Linked DNA regions of Homo sapiens: all the other regions are linked to region 2. A link means that fine-mapping ties the variant in region 2 to the plasma level of a protein whose gene starts in the linked region. Region 2 holds a variant in brackets. A gene starts in each other region. All regions are shown on their reverse strands. Region 1 holds the start of TGFB1 (transforming growth factor beta 1). Region 2 overlaps ZFPM2 (zinc finger protein, FOG family member 2). Region 3 holds the start of SPINT2 (serine peptidase inhibitor, Kunitz type 2). Region 4 holds the start of CCL17 (C-C motif chemokine ligand 17). Region 5 holds the start of FGF2 (fibroblast growth factor 2). Region 6 holds the start of CLEC1B (C-type lectin domain family 1 member B). Region 7 holds the start of PER3 (period circadian regulator 3).

The links. PIP is the chance, under the fine-mapping model, that this variant and not a neighbour inherited with it causes the effect. The UK Biobank Pharma Proteomics Project read protein levels with antibody pairs (Olink). The fine-mapping took linkage between variants from a reference panel, not from the people measured, so its PIPs are less certain.
Region 1: it holds the start of TGFB1, and the variant in region 2 is fine-mapped to the plasma level of the TGFB1 protein (UK Biobank, PIP above 0.99).
Region 3: SPINT2 starts here. The variant in region 2 is fine-mapped to the plasma level of the SPINT2 protein (UK Biobank, PIP above 0.99).
Region 4: it holds the start of CCL17, and the variant in region 2 is fine-mapped to the plasma level of the CCL17 protein (UK Biobank, PIP above 0.99).
Region 5: FGF2 starts here. The variant in region 2 is fine-mapped to the plasma level of the FGF2 protein (UK Biobank, PIP above 0.99).
Region 6: CLEC1B starts here. The variant in region 2 is fine-mapped to the plasma level of the CLEC1B protein (UK Biobank, PIP above 0.99).
Region 7: PER3 starts here. The variant in region 2 is fine-mapped to the plasma level of the PER3 protein (UK Biobank, PIP above 0.99).

Annotation. Positions count from the first base shown.
Region 1 is chr19:41,352,888-41,356,887 of GRCh38, reverse strand. It overlaps TGFB1 (transforming growth factor beta 1), which reads left to right and starts at 2,966. Exons shown (of 7, transcript NM_000660.7): 1 at 2,966-4,000. The coding sequence starts at 3,844. It overlaps B9D2 (B9 domain containing 2), which reads left to right. Exons shown (of 4, transcript NM_030578.4): 4 at 1,875-2,471. The coding sequence ends at 2,188. RefSeq lists enhancers at 2,089-2,590, 2,514-2,663 and silencers at 2,664-3,193, 3,344-3,413, 3,714-3,793, 3,954-4,000.
Region 2 is chr8:105,567,671-105,571,746 of GRCh38, reverse strand. All of the region lies in intron 4 of ZFPM2 (zinc finger protein, FOG family member 2), which reads right to left. Among named protein-coding and RNA genes, the nearest start is that of ZFPM2, 250 kb to the right of the region's middle. The variant T/A (reference allele first, on the strand shown) is at 2,447.
Region 3 is chr19:38,263,502-38,267,565 of GRCh38, reverse strand. It overlaps SPINT2 (serine peptidase inhibitor, Kunitz type 2), which reads right to left and starts at 2,993. Exons shown (of 7, transcript NM_021102.4): 1 at 2,568-2,993. The coding sequence starts at 2,673. RefSeq lists a silencer at 2,969-3,288 and an enhancer at 3,445-4,064.
Region 4 is chr16:57,402,360-57,406,428 of GRCh38, reverse strand. CCL17 (C-C motif chemokine ligand 17) reads right to left here and starts at 1,662. Exons shown (of 4, transcript NM_002987.3): 1 at 1,593-1,662.
Region 5 is chr4:122,824,306-122,828,381 of GRCh38, reverse strand. FGF2 (fibroblast growth factor 2) reads right to left here and starts at 1,551. Exons shown (of 3, transcript NM_001361665.2): 1 at 1,030-1,551. The coding sequence starts at 1,207. RefSeq lists enhancers at 19-68, 1-120, 109-248, 121-646, 929-1,008, silencers at 594-888, 1,229-1,708, cis regulatory regions at 2,208-2,246, 2,247-2,317 and promoters at 1,374-2,341, 1,510-2,692.
Region 6 is chr12:9,996,897-10,000,972 of GRCh38, reverse strand. It overlaps CLEC1B (C-type lectin domain family 1 member B), which reads left to right and starts at 1,852. Exons shown (of 6, transcript NM_016509.4): 1 at 1,852-1,936; 2 at 2,593-2,691; 3 at 3,694-3,813; 4 at 3,973-4,076. The coding sequence starts at 1,873. It also overlaps a transcript of CLEC12A not described here.
Region 7 is chr1:7,783,502-7,787,574 of GRCh38, reverse strand. PER3 (period circadian regulator 3) reads right to left here and starts at 3,284. Exons shown (of 22, transcript NM_001377275.1): 1 at 3,199-3,284; 2 at 2,570-2,921; 3 at 1,989-2,134; 4 at 739-854. The coding sequence starts at 2,697. RefSeq lists a silencer at 3,209-3,818.

The sequences.
Region 1 (4,000 bases), not on the chromosome of region 2:
GGTAATGGACAAGTGAGATTTCACCTTTTTTTTTTTGGAGACAGAGTTTCACTCTGTTGCCCAGGCTGGAGTGTAGTGGCAAGATCTCAGCTCACTGCAACCTCTGCCTCCCAGGTTCAAGCAATTCTCCTGCCTCAGCCTCACGAGTAGCTGGGACTACAGCCACGTGCCACCACATCTGGCTAATTTTTGCCTTTTTTTTTTTTAATAGAGATGGCGTTTCACCAAGGTGGTCAGGCTGGTCTCGAACTCCTGACCTCAGGTGATCCACCTGCCTCGGCCTCCCAAAGTGCTGGGATTACAGGCATGAGCCACCGCGCCTGGCTGAGATTTCACTTTTAAATAATCTTTCTGTCTTTTAAGCTGGAGCTGGGGAAAAAAAAAATCTTTCCGGTGCTGTGTGGGTGAGGTGGGCAGCTCTAACCTTTCAGCTCTTGGGGCCTCCAGTCCCCCAGTGGTGGCACCAGCCTTGCTTTCTCTTTTCTCAAGCCCCCATTTTGTCCATCAGGAAATCTTAAACTGCCTCTACTTTTGAAATACATCCTAAATCCCACTTCTTACCCTTTTCTCGCCCAGCACCTTGATCTGTCCAAGTTCTTCTCTCACATGGACTATGACAAGAATCTTGTCTCTGGAGTCCCCTTCCCCAACCCCCCTGGTCTGCACCCCACATGCAGCTGGGACCCTGTGAACACCTAAGTCAGGTCCCATCTCTGCTCTGCTCAGAACCCTCCAATGGTCCCCATCTCACTCAGGGTGAAAGCCATAGTCTTAGCATGCATCACAAGGCTCTCCACAACCAGGCTGGCACCTCCTTCCCGTCTCCCCACCTCATTCTGCTCTAGCCATGCTGTCCCCACCAGGCACACTCCGTCTGGGCTCCAGCCATACTGTCCCCACCAGACAGTCCCCCCCCAGGGCCTTGGCACTTGCTGTTCCCTCTGGCTAGGAGCACTCTTCCTCTAGATGGCCACATGGCCTACTCCCTTCCTTCCTTTTAGCATTTGCTCAAATGTCACCTTCTTAATGAAGCTTCCTTGATCCCCTTCTTGCTAAAGCGGTATCCCCACCCTCACCCTACCCAGCTCTGTTTTCCCTCACAGCAATTACCACCATCTGATCTACCCTATAATTTGCTTATTTACTACATTCGTTGTCTAGGATATCAGCTTCACGGGGGCAGGAATTTTTGTCTGCCATCCATGTTCATGTCTGCCGTGTCCCCAGCTAGCTAGAACAGAGTCTAGCACAGGAGAAGGGATCAGCATGAGATGAGATGGGGCTGGATCTCCAAGGGCTTTGACTACCAGACTGAGGAGCTGAACTGTGTTCTGAGGACATGGGCAAAGCTATGGAAGGAGAGAAAGATGCTTCCAGATGCCAGGTGGAAGGTGGATTAGAGAGGGGCAAGAAAGAAGGCCCTGGGCCCAAAGAGAGCAGGGCAGGGACATGAGGGAAGGCAGGAGGTGTCCCTGACAAGGCCCATGATGGTTACCTGGGGACTGGAGGAGCAATGGGCTGCCCTGACATGGGGTCATGGAGGAGGATAACACAGAGAGGAAATTCAGCAGAGGTCTGATTAGAAGGGCCTTGAATGTTGAAGAGGTTGGACTTTATACTGAGGGCACTGGGGAGCTATGGAAGGATCCTTAGCAGGGGAGTAACATGGATTTGGAAAGATCACTTTGGCTGCTGTGTGGGGATAGATAAGACGGTGGGAGCCTAGAAAGGAGGCTGGGTTGGAAACTCTGGGACAGAAACCCAGAGAGGAAAAGACTGGGCCTGGGGTCTCCAGTGAGTATCAGGGAGTGGGGAATCAGCAGGAGTCTGGTCCCCACCCATCCCTCCTTTCCCCTCTCTCTCCTTTCCTGCAGGCTGGCCCCGGCTCCATTTCCAGGTGTGGTCCCAGGACAGCTTTGGCCGCTGCCAGCTTGCAGGCTATGGATTTTGCCATGTGCCCAGTAGCCCGGGCACCCACCAGCTGGCCTGCCCCACGTGGCGGCCCCTGGGCAGTTGGCGAGAACAGTTGGCACGGGCTTTCGTGGGTGGTGGGCCGCAGCTGCTGCATGGGGACACCATCTACAGTGGGGCCGACCGCTATCGCCTGCACACAGCTGCTGGTGGCACCGTGCACCTGGAGATCGGCCTGCTGCTCCGCAACTTCGACCGCTACGGCGTGGAGTGCTGAGGGACTCTGCCTCCAACGTCACCACCATCCACACCCCGGACACCCAGTGATGGGGGAGGATGGCACAGTGGTCAAGAGCACAGACTCTAGAGACTGTCAGAGCTGACCCCAGCTAAGGCATGGCACCGCTTCTGTCCTTTCTAGGACCTCGGGGTCCCTCTGGGCCCAGTTTCCCTATCTGTAAATTGGGGACAGTAAATGTATGGGGTCGCAGGGTGTTGAGTGACAGGAGGCTGCTTAGCCACATGGGAGGTGCTCAGTAAAGGAGAGCAATTCTTACAGGTGTCTGCCTCCTGACCCTTCCATCCTTCAGGTGTCCTGTTGCCCCCTCCTCCCACTGACACCCTCCGGAGGCCCCCATGTTGACAGACCCTCTTCTCCTACCTTGTTTCCCAGCCTGACTCTCCTTCCGTTCTGGGTCCCCCTCCTCTGGTCGGCTCCCCTGTGTCTCATCCCCCGGATTAAGCCTTCTCCGCCTGGTCCTCTTTCTCTGGTGACCCACACCGCCCGCAAAGCCACAGCGCATCTGGATCACCCGCTTTGGTGGCGCTTGGCCGCCAGGAGGCAGCACCCTGTTTGCGGGGCGGAGCCGGGGTGCCCGCCCCCTTTCCCCCAGGGCTGAAGGGACCCCCCTCGGAGCCCGCCCACGCGAGATGAGGACGGTGGCCCAGCCCCCCCATGCCCTCCCCCTGGGGGCCGCCCCCGCTCCCGCCCCGTGCGCTTCCTGGGTGGGGCCGGGGGCGGCTTCAAAACCCCCTGCCGACCCAGCCGGTCCCCGCCGCCGCCGCCCTTCGCGCCCTGGGCCATCTCCCTCCCACCTCCCTCCGCGGAGCAGCCAGACAGCGAGGGCCCCGGCCGGGGGCAGGGGGGACGCCCCGTCCGGGGCACCCCCCCGGCTCTGAGCCGCCCGCGGGGCCGGCCTCGGCCCGGAGCGGAGGAAGGAGTCGCCGAGGAGCAGCCTGAGGCCCCAGAGTCTGAGACGAGCCGCCGCCGCCCCCGCCACTGCGGGGAGGAGGGGGAGGAGGAGCGGGAGGAGGGACGAGCTGGTCGGGAGAAGAGGAAAAAAACTTTTGAGACTTTTCCGTTGCCGCTGGGAGCCGGAGGCGCGGGGACCTCTTGGCGCGACGCTGCCCCGCGAGGAGGCAGGACTTGGGGACCCCAGACCGCCTCCCTTTGCCGCCGGGGACGCTTGCTCCCTCCCTGCCCCCTACACGGCGTCCCTCAGGCGCCCCCATTCCGGACCAGCCCTCGGGAGTCGCCGACCCGGCCTCCCGCAAAGACTTTTCCCCAGACCTCGGGCGCACCCCCTGCACGCCGCCTTCATCCCCGGCCTGTCTCCTGAGCCCCCGCGCATCCTAGACCCTTTCTCCTCCAGGAGACGGATCTCTCTCCGACCTGCCACAGATCCCCTATTCAAGACCACCCACCTTCTGGTACCAGATCGCGCCCATCTAGGTTATTTCCGTGGGATACTGAGACACCCCCGGTCCAAGCCTCCCCTCCACCACTGCGCCCTTCTCCCTGAGGACCTCAGCTTTCCCTCGAGGCCCTCCTACCTTTTGCCGGGAGACCCCCAGCCCCTGCAGGGGCGGGGCCTCCCCACCACACCAGCCCTGTTCGCGCTCTCGGCAGTGCCGGGGGGCGCCGCCTCCCCCATGCCGCCCTCCGGGCTGCGGCTGCTGCCGCTGCTGCTACCGCTGCTGTGGCTACTGGTGCTGACGCCTGGCCGGCCGGCCGCGGGACTATCCACCTGCAAGACTATCGACATGGAGCTGGTGAAGCGGAAGCGCATCGAGGCCATCCGCGGCCAGA
Region 2 (4,076 bases):
AGTACAAACTGGTACCTATCTCCATTCTCTCTGTTATCATCTCCAAGTTACTGAATGTATTAATTGTCATGTCAAGCTGAGATTGATGCTAAGTCCTCATAATGCTGGCACAATATTTGTTACAACCATGTAAGCATATCCTGCCAAACTAATTGTTTTGAAATCAGTATAGAATGACAATTCCTCAAAAACATCAAATAGAAAGAATTTAAAAGGCATGCCAGACCTATCAGCACATAACAGAGGACAGTTTGGTCAACTCCATGAACAACTCTTCCTCACAGTGCTTTGTTACTTCTACCTTCCCCTCCAGGGAAAACTACATTTCAAGATTGATATTTTAGAATTTGTGTTACAAAAACAATAGTTATGCTTTACAAACCACTTCCTCACTAGTCAAGATGGTGATAGATTTCCCTAGAGAGGCAGGGATGCTATATATCCACCCACTTCCACCTTAGGCCTTCATGATTCTGTTTTTGGCAAATACGAAGAAATGACAGTAGCAATGAAATCTGCATTAAGAAAATTCATGTAAGGATCCCTATGTGTGGGAACAATCACAACTCCCACAAACAGTATCTGGAGCTATAAATCAATAGTGATTCTTCATCCTTCACACCGATCCTCTGTGGGAAAAGGTTATGTGACTCATTTGTCTCAACTTTACACACATAGAGTGGATCAGCTTTGATCATCTTATGATGACATAAACAATTCCTCCTTTCAGAAATTAATTAAATTAATAGCACTAATCGTCCTAATAACTGAAAAGATCATCTTCAACAAAAGTTCTCCTTGGAGTTCTGGGAAAAGGGAACAATGAATAATCTTGTAAAAATAATTCTTTTTAAAAGTTCAAACTTGGCCTAACTAAGGGTAAATAGGTTTAGCCATATAAACCAAAGGCCAAAATGTATTAAAATTTCAGGCAGAGGAGAGTAAGTTAGGTCCATAAATAAAATTGTCTATGTATAGCAAGGAATTGTGTTTCCACCTTTCAAATCCAAGTCCAAATGTAAAGAACCTGGAAAGACTTCACCATCAGGAGAAAAAGTAAGTCAGGATGAGATTGAGGTTAACAGGCTAGCTATACACAAAAGGTATTATTTTGGAGGCAAGTAAAAATTATCAGGAAGGGCACAAATTCAGGTTTTCATTTCAATACCATTGTGCCATATGACAATGTATTTTCATCCACTGCCAACATCATAACTATATCTGCATTATAACACAGCAAATCCCTTCAGATTAATATGCAATTGACCTCTCTGGCTTCTACATATTTCAATTGTGAAATAATTCTTCGGTGTTTAATTTCTTCCTTTCTGACTCACATTCAATAGCAGGCCTTTGATTACTGAGGCCTCCACACAAACTTCTTTCTCCTCTTTCCCTGAGTAATCCCCCTCCATCAAAAAAAAAATAAATAAAAATAAAAATCAATAAAACAACAAAAACCCTACCCTAATTCTAGAAACCAAACCAACGCATCACTTTCCAAGGCTCTGCTGCATTACATTTCTTGCCTTCAAGTCTTCTTTGAGCAGCTTTTCTGTCCACTCAGTTTCCATTAATTCTCCACATAGCAGATAGAGTATAAGAGAAGCCAGGATCTTGCCCTCCCTAAGGGACAAATCTACAACCTCCATCAATAATGAATTTCACCAATGTTTCCCAAGAGGAACAGGGTACAATTAAAAAGGTTATAAGTCCTTGCACTACTAGAACCTAAGGGCGTCTGTGAATGAAACTGGCTTAAGCCCAATTAGAGGAATCAGTACATTTGTCTTCTCTTGGAACAATCTTGCTCTTACGGTTCCCATCAATTCAGTATAAATCTGACTGATCTTATCCAAGAAGTTAATAGAAAATTGCTCACAGTGGGCGACTGCCACCTCAGTTTCCAAGCAGAGACAGATGGAATTTCCCAGATGGTTTGTCACTGGAACGTGTGAGGCTGGATGAGACTTCACAGAAAGCATGGTAGAGCAGAACACCTTCTTGGCCTTCACCCATGTCATAGTGAGGGATCTAAAACTGAGTCTGTTGTAAACAAATCATAATTGCCTCACTAGGCGCAACACCTCATCCTCCTAGCTGCATCCAAGGGTTGCAAATCTTACACCGAAATTAGTCAACTTTTCTCAAGAAACCATCATGGGCATATCTCCTTATGAGATAAAAACTGAAGAAATAGACATAGTTATCTTGTCCTACTGAAGTTTCCTCTCAAACGAGACTAAAATAAAAGTGCAAGTCTATAAACAAATAAAACAGGTACAAGATAGCATTTCCTGTGGTAATTGCTCTGCTGAGTTAGGCAGATGAAGCAAGATCACAGACGAAACAGACATGGATGTAAAGCCTCAGGAAGGATGCAGGGTCTTGAATAAGGAGGGGTGTGCAGCTGTTCCTGATATGGAGAAAAGTGAAAGGAAAAAAT[T/A]AATGTGCTGATTCATTCAATGTTATTCATTGAGCTCTTAGTATAAGCTAGACATTGTTCTAAGTGGGAAGGATAGAAAGATAAAAAATAGATAATAAGCATATGGTCTGCAGGGGAGATAGACAAGCAAACAGGAGCTCACAGTTATGTGATCAGTGCTCTTATCCTAGTAAACCTAGAGCACCAGGGAAATACTCCAAGAGTGGTTATCTATTCCAGACAGGAGGCTTCAGAGAAGGTCTACCTTGGAAGTGACTTTGAGCAGAGTCTTTAAATAAGTATTGGACTTAGTGAGATGAAGAGAGATAGGTGGGGAGGGGGGAATAGGGGTTTCCAGGAGGATAAAACAGCATGACCAAATGTACGGATGTGGAAAAAAAATGGACATTCAGGGCACTGCATGTAGTTCAGAATGCCTAAAGTCTATAAGAGAGTGGAAAAGGGGTCAGAACTGGGGAGGTGAGCATCACCTGGGGAGGTGAGTAACAGGAAGGCCTTTTTTAGGCTTTACCAAAACCTTGGGGTATTCTCGTGCCCTTTAGAATGATTTTAAAGCACAGGAGTTAAGTGACTACTGTAGTTTTGCTTTCAGGACATACTGTGGTCTGAGTAAATAAAAAGATGACAAGAGAGAACAGAAGAATATTGTAATAATCAAGAGAGAAGCGGTGGGGCTTTCGACTAAAGCAGTGGTAGCAGGACAGAAAGAGGAGAACAATCATTACGAAAGCAGGAGTTATGATGCTTGGTTTCTGGACATGAAATGGAGAGTCTTGGAAGATGTTTGACTCTGAATAGAAGGAAAAAGAGATGGTAGTAGTTACAGGCAAAAGGAGAGAGGTATGGGTATGTGTAACTGTGTGTGAATAGCATTTGAGATGTGAGAAGGAGAGGTAGAAATGCAGAAAAGACACAGGATAATTGAGAGAATGGACTCCCTGCAGAGGTACGAAAGGAGAGGCAGAGGACTAGGATTAAAGGTGACTGAAAGCTGGAAGTCATGGAAAAGAGAGGCTGTCTGTGGAGACAGGAATAAACTCTCTTTGTGACTGTGTAGTTGGAGGAATTAAATGGGAAAGCTTGCAAAACAGTTGAAATGTGCTATTAGAGAAAGGGTAAAAAGCCAAGGTTAGAGATTTTTTTATTTAAATGTCATTTGTAAATTAGTAGCTGAAGCTTTGCAAGTGGATAAGCTCCCTGAGGCACTGGGAACAGAGGGAGAAGAGAAGAAAGGCCAGAAGTGTTTTGGGAAACACTCACAGTTAAATTAAAAAGAGCTAAGACCCAGAGAGATATGAGAAATAGGAAAGTATGGTAGTCCTGAGCCCAGATTAAAATGAATATTAAGAAGGAAGATATCATTCACAATGTCAACATCAATGAAATCTGAGGCTCAACAAAAAGTCATGCCTCAGCAAAATTATAAATTATGCCATTGAGATGGGAAAGATGGAGAATATGGGTGGAGTCAGTGAGAATGTTCCTGATAAGCAAATTCAATTCGATTAGATTTTTATTTTAAAGAGCAGTTATTGAATACCGATTATGTACCAGTAGTAGAGGTCCAAAATTGAATAATAAAGATTAAATAATTCTATGTCCTCTAGAATCTCAATAATAATTTGGATAT
Region 3 (4,064 bases), not on the chromosome of region 2:
CACTGCATCCTATCTGTCTGGTTCATTCCCTTCAGAACCTCAACTCCAACAATCTGCTGGCCCTACCATCTACCTCGGCCCTCCGCCCCCTCATGTTTTCATACAGAATAAATTCCTTGACCAACCCCCATCCTCCCTCCCTCACACATTCTCTGTTCACTCCTCCCTCACCACCACACTCATCCAGCAGCACCTGAGCCACTGCATGGAGCTTCAGCAACACCACACTCCCAGTGGATGACTCGCTTCCGGAGAAAACAGAAGCAATCAGGAAGGAGCGAGGAAAAAAAAGTCAAAACTGCCTTCTGCCTCCGATTAAGCTGTTCAAGCTTTCAAACAAACAGAACTTACGATGAGTGAGGGCATGAGTTCACCCAGTCAGACACTAGTACTTCTGAAAGGTCAGTAGGTCCAGTCGGCAGCAGCAGTCAGGTAGGCCACTCTGAACAGAGAAGGCCTCTGCAGTGAGACCTGGCTTTGTCAATTACTACTACCGAGTGACCTCGGGCAAGGCAAGTAACTTCACCACCGCACCCGGCTGTTTCAAAGGTTAAATGGCACATCCCAGCTCAGAGTAAGCACCAGAGGTAGCAAGAGGCCATGTCCCAGCTCAGAGTAAGCACCAGAGGTAGCAAGAGGCCAGGTAACTGGGAGGTACATCCTAACGTAATTACTTAAACTGAAAAAGTCCAGCAGAGCTGCCAAATTCTGGTTCGAATTGCAAGAATGATCAACGTCTGCATTCCTGACTCCCAGTCACCTACAGCTGAGCCTCTCCCCACCAATTCACTTTTTTCTCCTGCCTAGGGCACAGAGAAATTAACCAGTCCCCAGAAGTTACCACAGGTGATGACTTGGTACACACCTAGCCTGCTCTTTTTTTTTTTTTTGAGACTGAGTCTTGCTGTGTCGCCCAGGCTGCTGTGCAGTGGCTTGATCTCAGCTCACTACAGCCTCCGCCTCTGGGCTTCAAGCGATTCTCCTGCCTCAGCCTCCCGAGTAGCCGGGACTACAGGTGTGCACCACCATGCCCAGCTAATTTTTGTATTTTTGGTAGAGACGGGGTTTCATCATGTTGCCTAGGGTGGTGTTGAACTCCTGGCCTCCAGTGATCTGCCCGCCTTGGCCTCCCAAAGTTCTAGGATTACAGGCATGAGCCACATCACCCGGCCTTCTTTTTTTTTTTTTGAGATGGGAGTTTCACTCTTGTTGCCCAAGCTGGAATGCAGTGGCGCGATCTTGGCTCACTGCAACATCCGCCTCCCGGGTTCAAGCACCAGCACCTGTCTATAAAGCCCTAGGCCATCTGGCTGCAGCCAACCTCTCCCACCTCCCATCCTCCTCCAGTCCTCCCCTCCTTCACGCCTGCTCCAGCCAGGCTGGCTCTGTCTTTTCCCTGAACCCAACCAAGCTTGTTCCAGCTTCAAGGCCTTTGTACTCTATTGCCTGCAACTGGACACTGGTCCCCCAGGTCTCCGTGTGGCTACTGCCTCATTCTTCATGTTAGAGCTCAGATGTCACCCTCCTCACGGAGACGTCCCCCGACCACCTGAGCTAAAGCCGCCCCCAACATCTTACGTCACCCTGTTGGTGTACTTCACCTGGTTCATTTAATTCTCAGTAACTTAATCTCATGGCAAGTGCTTTTTAAACCTTCACTAGCTCTGCCTCTCCCACTGGAATATTAGCTCTGTGAATGCAGGAACCCAGCTAGTCTGAGTTAACTGTTATAACCAGCGCCAGTGCCTGACACGTAGCAGGGCCTCAGTAAGTTTTGCTGAATCAATGAATTCTTGCTTTCAAGAGAGCTCTTTTCAAAACACGCTGGTGCTTGTCTGAAGCAGTTAAGGTTATAACAACACTTGTTCAAAGAGACCTTTCAGACCACACTTCCTTAAGAGTGTAGAAGTTTAAATCACCTTATTCACCACCGACTTCTAAGGGCCAATCCAAAGACCCCAACACCAGCTGCTCAACGCCAATACTCTCTCGAGCCTTAGCAGAGCTTCCTCTTCCCCAAAGCTTGTTTCCTTTCTTGCTCCCTCCTTCTCGGGCACCTACTTTACTGCAACTCAACTACAAAAACTTCAGGGGAGGCTCTTGTCCAATCTCCAAAGAGGCAGGGGTGAGATGGGCTTCTTCCGAGTCTAAAACGGCCACCAGGTCACCCAACCCAACCCCCACCATCTCACAGGCCTGGCCTCTCCCTGAGCTTTGGCCATGGAACTTTCCACCGCCAGGAGAAGGCTGGTCTTCAATTCGGCTCCTCACCCCGTTCTTGCCACAGGAAGGGGCAGTGCCACGCCTTCTTGGTCAATACCCCTTGACTCTTCCTCCACCCGAAGGAAACTCTCCTAACCCTCGCTCCTCCGCCCGTCTTCGCTGTCGAAGGCTCCCAAACCTCATTTCAAGGCTCAATCCTCCAGGGCTGGTTCCACCACACCCGCTGAACGCCATCAAGTAGCCCCCAGTTTCCTCCCCCGCCAGTTCTCCCTGCTCAGACCCCCGTTGACCCCCGAGCCTCTGCCCCCTGCGCCCCGCCTCCAGCCTACCCGCCCGGCCCTCACCGTGGATGCTGCGTTCTCGGTCGGCCGCCAGGACCCCAGAGAGGAGCAGCGATCCCAGCAGGGCGAGAAACGCCCGGCTCCGCCTCAGCCCGCACAGCTGCGCCATGGCCAGCTCAGCCGAGACGCGCAGGCGACGCCACCAGCCGTTGGGGTCTCGCGATCAGGTGCGGGAAGCCCCTCAACGCGCACGCGCAATGGAGCGCCTCGCGTTCAGGTGCCGACGCTCCGGGAGGGTCCGCCAGGTGCCAAAGCCCCCGGAAGTCGCCTTTCCGGACCTTCAGTGTGGGGACGCCCGGCCTTCTCGGCGCGCGATGCCTGGGTCTGCTCCTCACTCGCGCCCTCGCCGCCTGCGACACTCAACGGCCCTCAGCGCGTTCAGAGCCGCGCTACACCTCCCAACGCGCGGAGGTCGCCAGAGCCAATGGCGAACGCCTATTGGAAGCGGCTCCCGAAGGTGGCCGGGCAGGCAGGGGGCGGGGCGCACCTGGCTAGGCAGGGCGAGCTGGGCGCAGGCGCAAAGGGCAGGCACCTGCGCGGCCGCTCCCCGGCCCTGGGCGCACCTGGGCCCGCCCCTGGTGCCGGGGAAGAGGCGGGGCTTGCGCGGGCCTCGCCCCCAACAGAACCTGGCGGGGCGGGGCGGGGCGTCTGCCCGCTGAGCACCTGCCACCCTTCCCTTGGGCTTGGTGACGACGTCGGAGGAGGGCCTTCGCTCTAGGACTGGCCTCAGGGTGGGAGGAGGGGGCGGCAGACACGCGTTTCTTGGAAGCCTGTGGTTTTCTGCCCGCCTCGCCGCAGCTTTCCTGTGAATTCCTTCCTGAATTTCAAAGTTCACTGGGCTCATGCTCCAGGGCTTAATGCTGGGGACCCAGCGGTGGCCATGCCAGACTGGTCCCTGAGTCACCAAACAGGAACGGCCCAGAGTAGTGATAGCGGAAGCTTAGCACAAAGTGATGAAAGCTGTGATGGGGAAGGCCAAGCTTAGGGATCAGAGGCTGGGTCGCTAGAAAACCAGGGCATGATGGGAGCCCAGACAGCTTTCCCATCCAGCCTGAGAGAGGGCCAAGGAGGGCTTCCTGGAGGAGGTGATAGGCCCATGCAAAAACAGCCCCGAGCCCTGGCTCCAAGGTTCTCAGGACAGATATGGAGACAAATACTTAGCACAGGCAGCATCAGAATTGAGAGGAAGGAAGCCCCTGGGGAAACCCAGAGAAGACACCTGACCAAGCCTGGGAGTCAAAGAGGGCTTCCTGGAAGAGGAGTTACGTGAACAGACTCTAGAAAGGGGAATGGAGTGGGGCAGGCACACGAGTAGAGGATAGCCAACAAGGTAATCAACATAAATGCATTATTATTGAAAACACTTTTAGATTATTTCTTTTTTTTTTTTTTTTTGAGATGGAAGTTTTGCTCTTGTTGCCCAGGCTGGAGTGCAATGGAGTGATCTTGGCTCACTGCAGCCTTGACCTCCTGGGCTCAAGGGATCCTCCCACCTCAGCC
Region 4 (4,069 bases), not on the chromosome of region 2:
TAGTTTAAGCAACTGGTCCACTGTAATCCCAGCACTTTGGGAGGCTGAGGTGGGAAGATCGCTTGAGCCCAGGAGTCTGAGACCAGCCTGGGCAACATAGTGAGACTCTGTCTCTACAAAAAAAATAAAATGAAAATTAGCCAATCATGGTGGTGCACGACTGAGCCATGACTGTGGCACTGCGCTCCAGCCTGGGCAAAAGAGCAAGATTCCATTTCAACAACAACAAAATAAATCTGCTTCATGGGCACAGAGCTAGCTGGTGGCAGGAGCAAGCCTGGGCTTCTGTCCTAGACTTTGTTTTTGCCTCAAGCAACCTTCCCTTCCTCCCTGACATCATCTACCCCAGATCTTTTACCTCTGGATAAAGACTTCTTTTTTTTTTTTGAGACGGAGTCTTGCTCTTTCGCCCAGGCTGGACTGCAGCAGCGCTATCTCGGCTTACTGCAAGCTCCACCTCCCGGGTTCACGCCATTCTCCTGCCTCAGCCTCCCAAGTAGCTGGGACTACAGGCGCCCGCCACCATGCCCGGCTAATTTTTTTTTTTTTTTGTATTTTTAGTAGAGACGGGGTTTCACCGTGTTAGCCAGGATGGTCTCGATCTCCTGATCTCGTGATCCACCTGCCTCGGCCTCCCAAAGTGCTGGGATTACAGGCGTGAGCCACCGCACCTGGCCTGATAAATACTTCTTAAATCTCTGTCTCCAGCCCTGACCAGTAACTAATCAGACACACCCACCTGGACACTCCTCCTTCCGGCCCATCTTTCTGTGGCACCCCTCAGCTCTCTCTGCCTTGCAGCCTGGCCAGCTCTGTGCAGTTCTGTCCCCCACACTAACCTGTGAGCTGCTGGGAAGCAGAAGTCTGTCCTGCTATGGTTCACTCAGCCCCAGGTACCAGAAGGGCAAAACCGAGTTCCCTCTCACACCAGCCTCCTTTTTTTCTGTTCAAGCCAGCATTGTTTCCCATCTCCCCATCTGCCCCCAAGTCTGAAACTTTGCCCTTGACTCATTCCTCGCCTCCATCCCCCACATTACATCAGGCAGAGACTCTGCCCAGCGCTGTCTTCAGTGGGAGCTTGGCTTCCTTGCTTCCTTCTCATCTCCACTGGCTCAGCCCTCATCCTTCACACCCAGAGAGTCTCAAAAACTTCTGGGCCTATTTCTTCCTCTCTGGTCTCTCCTGACACCTCCCTCATCAGCTGCATGCCCACATGTGGTGGATCTTTCACAAGGGCTGCCCTGACCATGTAATGCCCCCTTCCTCCAAAACCGTCAATGGCTCCCTGCTTCCTTCCCCATCCAGTCAAAACTTTTCAGGCCAATCTTGAAGCTGTACCTTCCATCTAGCCCCTCCTTCCTATTCAGTCTCATCTCCCTGCTCCCCAACATTGAGCTTTCTTGAGGGCCAGTGCGTCCCCTCACTTTGTGACTTGGTTTGCTGCTTCCAAACTCCTGTCCCCTTCTTGTATGGATTATCTTCCCTTGATCCAAAGTCCATCCACCGCTCATCTAACACATGCCCTGAAAGATCCAGCGAGGGGGTCACCTCACAGTGGAGGGGTTAGGAGCAAAGACTCTAGGTCAGGTCACCTGGTTTTGAATTCAGCTCTCCCATCAGCAGGCGGTGACACTGTGAGCTCAAAGTCACTTCTCTCTGAGCCTCAGTTTCTACAGCTGCAAAATGAAAATAATAACAATAATTACATTAGAAGGCTTTGGTTTGCATCAACTGCCTTACTGCTTATATCTGGCAAATAGTACACGTTTCTGACTTTAAATATCATCTATATGCCAACCACTCCCAAGTTTCTCTCGCAAACTCCAGCCTCCTTCTACGTCCAGCTGCCTACTCGCCATACCAAATAGGCAGCTCCAACCCCCCAAGTCTGAAGCTGAATTTCTGATTCCCACCCACCCCTACACCTGCTCTCTCCTCCTTCTCTGCCAGCCCCTTCCTTCCGGTTACTAGGGCCAGAAACCTGGGCGCTATCCCTGACGCCTCTTCCTCTCGCCCCCAACTTCCCATCTGTTGGGTGAGCTCATGTCTCTGCTTTCCAAATACACCCAGAAACCAGCATCAATCCCTGGCTTCCTACAACTGCCTTCTGGGTGCTCTCCCTGTCTCCATCCTTGCCCCCTACAGTGTATTCTCAGCACAGCAGCAGAGGGACCATGAATCTCCCGTGTTCAGAACGTCCCCGTGGCTCTCCACCTCACGCAGAGGACAAGTCCAAGACCCTCCAGCAGCCACGAGGCCCCGCGAGTTCTGTGCCCTGCTCTCTGCCCACCTGTATCTCCTGGTTCCCTGGTTCACTCTGCCCCAGCCACCCTGGCCTCCTCCCTATGCCTCAAACCAACCAGACAGACATGCTCCTTCCTGAGGAGGTTTGCACGGACTGTTCTTTCAGCCTGGAATGTTGTCCCCAGATACCTGCAGGACTCACTCCTTCACCTTTTTCAAACTTTTTTAGGCCGGGCGTGGTGGCTCACGCCTGTAATCCCAGCACTTTGGGAGGCCGAGGCAGGTGGATCACTTGAAGTCAGGGGTTCGAGACCAGCCTGGCCAACATGGTGAAATCCCATCTCTACTAAAAATACAAAAATCAGCTGAGCGTGGTGGCAGGTGCCTGTAGTCCCAGGTACTTGGGAGGCTGAGGCAGGAGAATCACTTGAACCCAGGAGGCAGAGGTTGCAGTGAGCCAAGATCACACCACTACACTCCAGCCTGGGCAACAGAGCAAGACTCTATCTCAAAAAATATATATATATATATATTATATATATTTATAATATATATAATATATATTATAAATATATATTATATATATTATAAATATATATTATATATATTATAAATATATATTATATATATATAAAATATATATTTATAATATATATAACATATATATAATATAATATATATATTATAATATATATATTATTATATAATATATATAATATAATATATATTATAATATAATATATATATTATAATATATATTATAATATAATATATATATTATAATATATATATTATATATAATATATGTTATATATATTATAATATATATATTATATATATTATAGATAATAATATATATTATATATATTATAGATAATAATATATATTATATATATTATAGATAATAATATATATTATATATATTATAGATAATAATATATATTATATATATTATAGATAATAATATATATTATATATATTATAGATAATAATATATATTATATATATTATAGATAATAATATATATTATATATATTATAGATAATAATATATATTATATATATTATAAATATATATATGTATTTGTTTAGATTACATCTTTCAGTGAAGTCAAATTGCATGCCATCCCCATCTCTTCCTCTGCTCTTTTTTTTTTTTTTTTTTGCTGAAATGCTTATATCCTCTGACATGCTAGGCCATTCGCTTACTTATGTCTGCTGTTTACTATCTGTCTCCCACCTGTACCCCCACCCCCATCCTACTGGGATGTAAGTTGCATGGGACAGAGGTTTCTGTTTCTTTTCTTTAATGGAATATATCTCGGCACATGGTAGGCCTTCAATACATAGTTTTTGGATTAAGTGAGTGAATGGATAAATGGCTGGTGTTGTTCCTGAAGCAGAATGCAGAAACCCTTCTTGTTACTCTCACTCTTACCAATGGACTTGTCTCAATGTCTCTCTGATGCCTGGGCTCCAGGACTTCTGAGCTTCCACTCAAGCCTTGTAAATGAGTGCCTTTTATTCATTGCTAGAGTCTGACTCTCTTTCCAAGGAACATCTGTCCCTGTTTCCAAGCTACTTCAAAGGCAGGTCTATGGTCCCCTGATGACATTGGGAAAATTTGAGGTTCACCCCTCAGGGTGTAGTGACAGAAGTCACTGAGAACTCAGAAGTCCTCTGCTCCTAGTCTGGCAGCCTGCCTGCAGTCGGGGTGGGGGGATTGTCCTGCCAAACTCGACCCTCTGGGCACCCGAGGAAGATCTGTTCAGCACCAGGGTCAGTGACAAGCACCCAGCATCCTGGGAAGAAGCCTCACACCCTTT
Region 5 (4,076 bases), not on the chromosome of region 2:
ATTCTAGTCCTCTTTCTCTCACTTCAAATTCCATCAGTGTTGTAAATCGGCTCATCTTATGCCCCTTTCTTTCTCTTTCCTCTAGACCAGTGGCTCTCAAAGTGTGATGTGATCAGCATCCCCGGGGAACATGTTAGAAATGCAAATCTTCAGCCCCCACTCCAGACTTAGGGAATCCCCTAAAGTCCAAGCACTCCTTATTTAGGCCAGTGTTCTTTCTAGAACCACAAACATTGTTTCTTACAGAAAGCAAAACTGCAATTCTCATTTCATCCTCAAGCCTGCTGCAAGGTAGTAATATATTAGCCCCACGTGAGCGATGAGGAAACCGGCTCTGGGGTTAAGCGTCGGCTCAAGGTCTCAAAGCTAGTCACTGCAGGTGGAAGATTAAAGTGTTTGCACTTCTTTTCACTACTGAAACAAAGCTATGGCACTTTATTAACAACATCTGGATTTTTTGCTGGTTGGCTGGTTGGTTTTTGTTTTTGCTCTTTCAGCTTTCGTCAATTCGGAAAAATATAAAACAGAGTGGGTGAGAGTAGTGTGCCATATGCCTCGGGTCGTCCCGAGTCGGAATTTAAGGGCAGGACTCTAGAAAGGTGTTTTTCCAGTAAAGACCGTTTCGTTCTGCTGCGGTCCTTCCTGTCTTTGTCCCCGGGACAGCACGCAGCAGATAGAAGCGGCCAGAGCTGCATGGCGGGGCCGCGGGCATCCCCGACGCGACAGGTTGTCCGCGGGAAGACAGCCAGTCCGCGAGGCCCCGGCGCGCCGCGGCTCCGGGCCGGGGGTACTGGTTTACAGGGCAAATTGGCACACCCCAAAGCCCAGGGGACACCCGGGCCTACGCCGCAGCCCGGAAAGGAGGGGGTGAGTGGTGAACCCGAAACCGCCGAGGGCCGCGCGGCCAGAAACCACACGGAGCGCTAGGGTCGCAGTGAAGATCCGGGAGGAGGGTGCAGGCTGGAGGGGAGAGAGCGGGCGAGAACCCACGAAATGGAAATGAGGCGGAGAGAGCGGGTCGGCACTCACTGTGAGGGTCGCTCTTCTCCCGGACCCCGTCAACTCGGCCGTCGGGGTGGATGCGCAGGAAGAAGCCCCCGTTTTTGCAGTACAGCCGCTTGGGGTCCTTGAAGTGGCCGGGCGGGAAGGCGCCGCTGCCGCCATCCTCGGGCAAGGCGGGCAGCGTGGTGATGCTCCCGGCTGCCATGGTCCCTGCGGGGCCCGGCCGGGATCCCCGAGCCGCTGGAGCCGCGCGGGGAGCCGCCGTCCCCCGGCCCCGGCCCCGGCCTCCGACCCGCTCCGGGGCACGGCCCCGGCCCCGGCCCCCCAGCCTCCCGCCCGGCAGCGCGCGGCCGCGCCCGCGGTCCCCCAGCCTCGAGCCGCTCGGCCGCTCTTCTGTCCGCCGGCCCCTGGTGCGCGGCGAGCCGGCGGCCCGGGACCTGGGGTTCACGGATGGGTGTCTCCGCGGACGCCGCCTGGGGAGAGCCGCCTCCCAAGCTGCAGCGCCCGGGATCCCGTTGCAACCGCGGGCACCGCGTCCGCTAATCTGGCACCCGCCGGGCCGCGGCGTCACATCTTCTACATCTCCACCCCCCACACCCACCAGCCTCCCGCGCCCCCAGTTCTCCTCCCTCCTGCGCGCCGCCCCCTACTCGCTCGGGTTTTCTGGGGCCGGCCTCTGAGTTCGGCGGTTCGGCCACAACACGCAAGCGCGCGACATCAGTCCGGCGGGGAGCCCGGCCTCAGTCGGGGGCGGGGGAGAGGCGAGGGGCGGGGGGCGCGCGTCGGAGGCCGCGGCAGGGCTTTGGCATTCCCTGGGCTCCACCGCCCCTTATCCCCCAAAAGTCACCCCCGCCCAACCCCCGCACCACCCAAACCACGTTTAGGCTTTCTCCACACTGCGGGGCTTTTGCTGCGCAACCAGCCGTGACTCAACTTTTAAAAGTTTAAACTCAACTTTCTCCCCCATTTTTTCCCCGCTAGCGTTTCAAAACGGAGAAGCCGTTTCCACCCCAAAGTAGAGAAGTTGCAATCCAAGGAAGAGTCTGTGTCAGAGCAGGCTTTGAAAATCTCTAAATCACCAAAAGACGAGGGGTACAAGTGGGGCATAAACTTTAAAATTAAAGGACAGAGGCTGAAGTCGTCTACCAACAAAAGGAGAGAAAGAGGCCAGAGAAGGGGAGCAGATTGGGTTGCTAAAACGAAAAGGTTTCCTTTACTGACCTATCTTGAATTAGACGACGCAGAAAGATGAGGATGGGGATAAGGATAAATCCTTATCGCGATCGAAGCGCATTAATGTCTTAACTCGGACCTGGCATTTGCCCTAGCTAAATTGTTATGCATTTCTTGGAGAGAGAGTTATTTTCTGTAAATCCCAAATGTAAAATTGAAGTTAATTGCATTTTGGTAATTTTCAGTAGGATATAGCAGGTGCCACAGATGACTAGGAAAATATCTATTCAGAAAACTTGCATGTATTGAGTACCTACTGTGTGCAACACATAATGTTGAGTGTGTGGGAGATGCCAAATCTGATGCCAGCGTCTCACACACTGAGGGAGATAAGATGGGTAGCATGAGTAACACAAATAGCAGTAGAAAGTAGGCCATAGAAGAGTAAGACTAAGTGCTGTGACATTTCAGACATCGGATAACTCAGCGTGGGGAGGCAGGAGATTTGGGGAAGCTTCTAGAAGGAGTTGCAAGTATGGACGTGCCTCCTTGTAGAAACATTAGGTTTCAAAAGGCCATGCATAAGTGCATTTGTTCTTAAGTCTCCAAGAAGGCTTTAACTCCAGATGCATTTCTAGAATGTTACATACAGGAGAATGAGTAAATTCTTTGAAGCTTTAAAACCAGGCATACTGTTTTTATTTTTATTATTTATTTATTTTTTTTAGACAGAGTTTTGCTCTTGTTGCCCAGGCTGGAGATCAATGGCACGATCTCGGCTCACCGCAACCTCCACCTCCTGGGTTCAAGCGATTCTCCTACTTCAGCCTACCGAATAGCTGGGATTACAGGCATGCGCCACCACCACGCAGGGCTAATTTTTTGTATTTTTAGTAGAGACGGGGTTTCTCCATGTTGGTCAGGCTGGTCTCGAACTCCCAACCTCAGGTGATCTGCCCGCCTCAGCCTCCCATAGTACTGGGATTACAGGCGTGAGCCACCGCGCCAGGCCCAAAACCAGGCATATTCTTCTTTCTTCTTGCAGTTGGTATATGTTCTATAGAGGAGGAAAAAAAAAATTTCCCCATTCATTACTAGGTTTATGGCTGAAGCCCCTGTAACAAAAGACACATTAACAAGAGAAAAACATACTAACTTATTTATGTGAGTTTTACACAAAACAGGAGACTTCAGAAATTAAGACCCAAAGTTAAGAGGGAAGCCTGTGTATTTTTAAGGCTAGGATTGATAAAGAAGTGGAAGTCATGGAGAAGTATGATTGGACAAATCTGTGATCTAATGGTAATAAACTGGGGGGACTTACTTAGCAAGGCCTATTTGCTCAGATTCTTTTCCCTGTCCGTGTGTCTTCAGAGATAAGGATGTCTGTTTCCTCCAGGTATAGGGAAGGCACCTCTGGAATGAAGGTCTTATGGTCTGCCTCAGAAGAGAAGATCTGGGGAAAGTGAAAGTAACCCTCTTGCTTCTGCTCTTTTCTTAAGTGCCAAGGTACCATTATTTTTGGGTAGCATGTCCTGAACGCCATCAGTTCTCTAACATCTCTCTCCAAAATGGATTTGTTTCATCTTCATTGAAGATCCGTCTGTTGAGACAAAATCACTCCCTCCAGATGATCTCTGTAGGTGCTACTGTGGTGCTGAGTAGTCCCTAGAATGATTGAACTCTCACTTGAACTCTGTGTCACAGAAACCTGAGGATTCCAGGAGCACGGGGATAAAATCTAAGTCATGATATTTTTTAACAATGGCATCCAGAAACCTGGGGAGCAGCTACACGCAGTAAAATAACTTGTATTCCCTACAATTCAAACAAATAATCTAATTTTCAAATGGGAAAAGATTTGAACAGACACTTCTCCAAAGAAAATATACAAATAGCCA
Region 6 (4,076 bases), not on the chromosome of region 2:
ACACATTTTCTTTTCTCTCTGTTACTTTGTCACAGTTATTTATTCGATTATTTTTTAGTGTTTCTGTATATTTTAGGTAACAAAACACTGAAGGAAAGCAGTGACCAAAAGAACGTGAAAGACAGGGGTTACTGTGACAGAATAGCCTCAGGACTTGCTGATGAGTAGATGTAGAAAGGAAGGAAGAGAGGGAGGATCAAACCCCATTCCAACCCCAATCTTCCAGAAAAGCCTGAGGATAAATGATGGGAGAGCGAAGAATCCCTTTTAGCTGAAACAGAAGTTATGAGAACAGAAGCAGTGGTAGATGAATGGTAAGTGACTGAATTTACCCAGCTTATGATTGGGAACCCCTGAATATTTTAACTGAGATAAGAAACACAGCAACAAAAATGGTGTTGGGATTTAATGTTTTTTAAAAATTTTTAGTCTTTTCTTAAAATTTGGCATTTATTTCAAATGTGTTTTTTTTTAATTAAGAATTAGTTTTGGTAAAAATATTTGAATCATACTAAGTTTGGCTTTCCAAAATCAGGGAATGTCTTTTATACGTGTTATGCTTATTCTTCACCTCATTCTCAAAATAATTTGAAGAGTATAGAGAAAGAAATTTAGAATGAAAGATAATTTTAAGTGAATTGACAAGAAATTCAGAGTGAAGGAGATAGCAGGGGAGAAAAAATCTACGGGCTATGCCAAAGGGCATGTTAATAAACAAAATATCTGCTACTGCAGCCCACATAATCACTATATTGAAAAGTCTAACACTCTGCTAAGTAAAGAAAAATAGAATTCAAATTATTTATAAGGTAAATGCCTACTACTTAAAGCTTTGCTAGTCATGGTGATTTAACAAAAATAAAAATCTGCCATAAAACTATGTAAGAGTTACCCTATGGCAAAATAGACAACATCCTCCCCAATATTCCTATAATAAATGCATCAGCTAGCTTTGTATGGCTGTTCTTACAACTACTTTCAGTGCAAGCTAAAATAATGTAAAAGCCCATTTCATAAAGTTAAGTGTGTGCAATACATATTATATTGTGATGAAAAGGTGCTAGGAACCATTCAGTCTCAAATATTCATCTAAGCACAGCTGTACTTGAAATGAAGTGATTTCATCAAATCAAAATTCTTCCATTCCAGGAAACTCACTTTAAAGCACAAACACTACTAAAGAACAATGCAGCAAGTCACCAACTCTGTATTATTTTACTTGATTTGATAGTTTTCCTTCAATACCTAAATCTAAGCAATATCAGGCCTGCCTCATGTGGATCCTTCAAATAAAAAAAAGTATGAAATATGCAAGAAGTTGTGTAAATTCTAGGTCATAATCAGGAATGATCTCTTCCAACACAAGACTATGAAACAGCTAATTTAGCCCCTATCAGATCCAATTATATTACACTTGCTTCTCACAATGAGATAAACTATATATCTGCTGGTGAGCTATATCCATGAATTTTCAGCAGAAATCTCTCATTTGAGCAATGTAATTTAGACTAAGCTAGGGCTAAGATAAAGCATGAACTTTTGTTCTTAGAAAGGATGCACATGATGGAATGTCCCTTTATTTAGTGTTGAAGATAAAAAAAAAGCAGGAAGCAAATACCTTATCTACTCCTTTACCACAAGTTATTATTATTTTTGTGTTTTTGTGTTCAAGGTCCATGTATCTCTGAGCAGCTATGAAGAAGCTTCCTGGAAAACAATAAGCAAAGGAAAACAAATGTGTCCCATCTCACATGGTTCTACCCTACTAAAGACAGGAAGATCATAAACTGACAGATACTGAAATTGTAAAGTTGGAAACTACATTTTGCAAAGTCATTGAACTCTGAGCTCAGTTGCAGTACTCGGGAAGCCATGCAGGATGAAGATGGATACATCACCTTAAATATTAAAACTCGGAAACCAGCTCTCATCTCCGGTAAGAATGCTCAGAGCCAATAATTTGGAAATTAATTTAAAAAATGAGTTGATTCAATTCTTTCTTTTTCTACTATTGATAATATATATAGTTTAATTTCTTTTTCTTGAATGATGTTAATGCTCTAAAGCATTTGAGTAGTGTTTTCATAAGCTCATACAGACCTATTTAGATTACAAACATCCAATATATGTGCAGGGAAAATTGCATTAAGATTCTGAGCGTTTAATACTCGAGGGCATAGAAGTCAAGGGGATAACGGAAAAGAGTGGAAATTTCATTTTCTATATGTGAGCAAATGAGTGTGATTCTTCATTTGCTGTTTATTAAAGCAATTATTTATGGCATGGGTGAGCATAAAACAAAACAAAACAAAACAAAACAAAACAAAAAATACAAACACATCAGGCCTTAACAGCAAGTAATATTTCAGCTTGGAGAGGTAAAGTGCATTGGAGATGAGAATGGATGTATGGTATAGGGGTGGGCCATGCCTATTGTTGATGATCATGAGGAGAACACAGGTGAGATCTGCCAGCAAAGCTCTTTCTATTACTTGGAGGACCCTGAGAAGGCAGGGGCAGGGGCAGGGGTGAGCCTTCCCCATAGCTAACCCATACTGCCTGCTCCTTGATGTCTTTATTATATGCCTACAGTTGGCTCTGCATCCTCCTCCTGGTGGCGTGTGATGGCTTTGATTCTGCTGATCCTGTGCGTGGGGATGGTTGTCGGGCTGGTGGCTCTGGGGATTTGGTGTAAGTGTTGACTCTGCCAGAAATTTGACTGGAGGAAGGTAATACTGAAGGGTCATGGCATATCCCACTAAGCTTCTCAATGGTCGCTATTTGTCTGTTTATCACTTCTACAGTTGTCCTACAGATAGTTGCCAAGAGAATCTCAATAAAGGAGAACACTGACTGTTTCCTTGTGATTAAAATAAGATTTTAAGATTTTAACTAATGAAAAGTTATTTTTAAGAATGTACTACTGGCCTTTAAGACCCTCCTCAGTGTGGATCCAAACTATTTTTAAAAACTTTTTCATCCCTTTTCCTATCTTGCATTCCTAAGAACCAGCCAAACTGGAGTTTTTCAATTTCATATATAAATTCCATGTTCCCTTGTCTGAAATTTTTCTCATTCTATTCTCTCTACCTAAAATTTTCTGTTTCTCATTTTGTTTACTAAGTTACTGTGCATTTCTTCTTTCTGTAATTCTCATGGCCCTCCAATAGCACATTGAAGTCTGTGTAGTTGTTGCTTGTTTGTGTATTTGTTGATTTTTTTAAAAGATGTTAGAATCTAACATTTATCCTCTTGTATTTCTTTATTATTTACCTGAATATCACAAGTACTTTAAGCATAACAAGAAATCAGTATGTATTTTTAAATGAATGAATAGTTTGGCATCACAGAAAGAACAGAAAATAAGAGGTCATTCACCTCTATAACTCAGCTGAGAAGCTTGTATTCAAGCAAATGAATACAGGCTCTGGGGATGTTATCGATGTTGGGATTTTTTATTTGTGATTGTCTCCTTCAAACAGTTCACTTATTAACCCTCAGGCGTCAGTTCTGTGTATTTCTTAATTTGTTCTTTATAGCCCCTCCACACTTTTCAACATTCATTTAATCATGTGTATCTAGTAAACTCCTCATATATTGGCAAAGTTAAGGAAATGAAAATTCAATGACAGACCTTTGCATCATTTCTATGGTTCTAATTACAAATTATTATTATTTACTTTTTAAACCTAGCTGTCATGCAGCGCAATTACCTACAAGGTGAGAATGAAAATCGCACAGGAACTCTGCAACAATTAGCAAAGCGCTTCTGTCAATATGTGGTAAAACAATCAGAACTAAAGGGCACTTTCAGTAAGTATTGTTTTTTTAACCTCTTCATCTCTCCAACCCCTGGAGCATTTCTCTGATGGCAACTGAAGGGAGTTTGAGATCTGCAGAAAACATTGAATGTGAAGAAAATGTAAGCCCAATTTAGAAAAAATACACCATTCCTGTGCTTGGTTTCTCCAGAAGGTCATAAATGCAGCCCCTGTGACACAAACTGGAGATATTATGGAGATAGCTGCTATGGGTTCTTCAGGCACAACTTAACATGGGAAGAGAGTAAGCAGTAC
Region 7 (4,073 bases), not on the chromosome of region 2:
TAGCATTGGCATACTTTCCTCTCTAGCTTTATTTTAAATATCTTAAAAGACAAATATTTTCTTAAGCTATTTTTAAAAATCTCCATAGCACCTCCTACAGTACTATGTACACACCAGTCCATAAAATAAGCACTGTTATAATACTAGGGATTGCGCACGTTCCACTATTACAAAATCTTTAAGTAACAATTATGTTACTTAAAATAAGTAATCTCCACCGTATCAACCAAACATGAAGATTACTCTGTCAAACAAGAAGAGAGATTAAAAAAGATATACTAAAGGTCTCTTCCAAAATTTTAGGAAAAATGACAGCATCTCAACTCACCTGTTCTATAACATCCAGTTGTTACAACTTGAAGTAGTAGGTATTGGAACTAAGAATGATATAAATAGAAATTAACAATTCGGAGATTAGAATAAGGTGCAGGAAATTACTCTGCAGTGTAATTTTTGTTTTCTCTTAATTCAAGAGAGCTTGGGAATGCTAAGGAGCTAGAAGCACCTCATAACCAAAGTCACTGAGCTGCACAGCACACAGAACGGGCTGCTTCTGCTTTTAGATGTTTTCTCTGGCAAGGGCGGAGAAGCTACACCATGCCTCTTTAGCAGTTCCTCCTTTGCTTCTCTCAAATTGTGGTTGCTGAAACGTTGTTATCCTTCTTAAAAGCCTACATCTAGAGCAGGCCCTTAGGAAAAGTCACCCAGGTTGATATGGCAAAATGCATGAATTCTTACTGTGTTTTTGGAAGTGTGTTCTGAAGCGATAGTGGCCAGCTCCTCAAGACTGTACATGCTCACATCTGCCTGAGGTGCTCCATTCTGACTGAGAATCTGGAAAAACTCACTGTTTGCTAAGAAACACAGGGAGATAAACAGGTAGTCCAGTGACAACAGTATCTTTAGGAAACCATTTCATCACTATCAAGCTGGATTATTTTTTTCGGATGAGAACACCTCAGTGCATTTTTCTCAAAAACAGATCATTTTCTGCTTTTACCTAAAATACTGATAGTTGTGCAAACTTAAGATTTGATTTTATGAATTCTGCATGTTCTGGATCACAGGAAGCAAGATACATTTAAGGTACTAACTAAAAATTTCAGATGCATACACAATTTTTTTGCGGGGGGAGCAGAAACAGTACTCTGTCATTCAGGAACATATCATATATGAAGCACTGAGGTTTGTGCTAAAGAGAATATGGCTTTAATGAAATCCCTGGAAATGTCAGAGAGAAAAAGTGTTTACAATGGTTCATTTTTAGTTTGGTAAATTCCTGATATATCATTACTGCATTTTTATCATTATTATTTTTTAGAGACAGAGTCTCGCTCTGTCACCCAGGCGGGAGTGCAGTGGCGTGATCTCGGCTCACTGCAAGCTCCGCCTCCCGGGTTCACGCCGTTCTCCTGTCTCAGCCTCCCGAATAGCTGGACTACAGGCGCCCGCCACCACACCCGGCTAATTTTTTGTATTTTTAGTAGAGACGGGGTTTCACCGTATTAGCCAGGATGGTCTCGATCTCCTGACCTCGTGATCTGCCCGCCTCGGCCTCCCAAAGTGCTGGGATTACAGGCGTGAGGCACCGCGCCCAGCCTCATTACTGCATTTTGAAAGTATGTGTACGGCATGTAAAGGTAACTATTTCGTGGAATGCATTTTTTTCCCATAACTTCCATAGAAGACAATATTTCTTTAAAAGGTCAGCCTTCAAAATGTGCTTATGCTAAACTCTACTCTCTTGCAACACATGAGCAAAACATTGCATAGGTATTATACACTATTATACAGATAAAGTTTTCCTGGTCTTTCACATGTGAACAATTAAGACACGAATGGAATCGGTGTAGATTTGCTCATCTTCCACAAAGCACCAGAAAAAGCTCAAATTATTTGTCTGACTGAGACCCCACTGACCACTCCTCTGGCTGCTTGTATGAGTCCTGGTGCATTCGTAGGATGAAATTTCTCTCCGGCTTGTTTACCTTGAACGCTGTGGACACAGCGGAGAGCATAGTTGAGGGCATCTAGAGTGCTTGGTTTATTGCGTCTCTCCGAGGGGAAGTATTTTTTCATTTCTTGGACAACCATGATAAGTTCTTCAGAAACTCTGTTTCGATCTTGCTGTTCACTGGAAGATAAAAAAAAATTACAACTTCATCCTCTGAAGACAACAGCATCTTGCGGCTTAGGGAACACAAACTGCAAGCCAGGTAAGTTTCTAAGTGCTCTACCGGCATCAGTCCACAGGGTGGTGACCCCTCTTCCTCTAGGTGGGGAACTCGAGGCAAAGCAACTGGTGAATGACAAACATTCTCCACTTACTTTCCCTTAATCCACTTGAGCCCCAACTCAGCTAACTTTTGTAACCACTTTTCCCTCCTGATACTCTTCGGTAATTTTCTTCAGTGTCACGGATCACTTCATCCTACATTGCCCGAGTCTCCCCTTTACACTTTCCCCTGGGCTTGAAAACAAAAGAATAAAAAGATTTAGGTCCCCCTTTCCCTGCTCCAGGGAAGGACAACGAACGCATGGGGCCCTCGGCCTGAAGCCAGCGCGTCACCTGTGGCTGCTGTCCGCCAATTTCCTCTGCAGATGGAACTCGGGGCTCCACCGCTCCCCCGATTCTTCGCCCAGGGCCTCGTCCTTAGCCCCCCGTCTCCCGGGGCCAGGAGCTTCCCCGCGGGGCATCTCGAGGTCTCCGCGGGGCTCCACGTCGTGCTGGGACGGCCCGCAGCCTGCTTCTCGCTCACTTTGCAGTCAGTGACAGACACCGGTTTCTCACTCCGGTCCCCGCCATGGCGTTAGTGAGAACAGGCGGCCACCACGAGCCAGGGGGTCACGCTCATCTCCGAGGAGCTTTTCCCTCCAACATTTTCAAAACCCGGAGCTCGCTCGACTTTCAGGACTCCGGCCTAGGGGGAGGAGACAAGGGTGACAAGGGACAAATGGAACAGACAGTCCGACGCCAGCGGCCCGGCTGGCTGGGGCGCCCCGACCGCGCGGTCCTCACCCCTGCCCCAACTTTCCCGCGCGCCGAGGGATGGGGCCCGGGGAGGCGGGTGGCTCGGAAGCGCCACGCTCCGGGGGCCCCCAGTACCGAGGGCAGGGCTCGCGGGGCTCCTCTGCCGCGCGCGAGTGCCCAGAACTCCCGCCCGGCCGCCCAGAACTCCCGCCCGGCCGCGCACTCACCTGCTGCCCCCGCCCTTGGCCCCGCGCACAGCCGCTCGCCCCCGGGGCCGCCCTCGCGCAGTCTCGAGGCTCGCCGCGTGCCGGTCAGCAGCCGGCGCCGCGCCCCCTGCCGCCGCGTGACCGGTCCCGCCCCCGGGCCGTGCGATTGGTCGTCGGGGCCGACTCCGCAGGCCTCCATTGGCCCTGGGGCGGGGCGCGAGCCGGTGCGCCCGGGTTATATAAGCCAGGGCGAGGGGGCGGGGCCCCCGGGGCGCGTTACATAACGCGCGGGCTCGGGCGGAGGCCGGCGCTCGGCCAATCCCAGCAGGCCGGCGGGCGGGCAGGGGACGGGGTGGCCCTCAGCGGCCTCAGGCCTGTGCCGCGCGACTGGAGTGTCCGGCCCCCTGGCACGGCGCCGGGGCGGAGCCGCTGAAGCCAGCGCAGAAATGATAGGGCCAGGAAGCTGCCAGCCACGTGGGGGCGGGACCCGGGCTCTGTGGGGCGGGGCGGGTCCGGCCCAACCTCCACGTGAGAGGCGGGCGGGGAAGGAGAGGGGAGTGAGAGGCGGGGGCAGAGAGGGGCGAGAGGCGGAGTCGGGGGGCTTGAGTCGGGGTCAGGGGGAGGCTGGAAATGGGGACGGATGGGGGCGAGAGGCGGGGACGGGGGGGCGGATGGGAGCGGGGGTGCCGAGAGACGTGGGGAGCGAGAGGCAGGGGCGGGGGGGCGACGGTGTCGAGGGCGGGGGCATTAGAGGGAGGGAGAGGCGGGGACTGGGGGCGAGCAGGGGCGGCTCAGGCCAGCGCTCTGGGGTCGAGTCCTGGAGTTTGTAGGTGGCTCCCGGCTGCCCGAGCGGGTGTGGGGAGGAGCCCAGGGTGGGGCGGGCTGCCGGCAGCGGT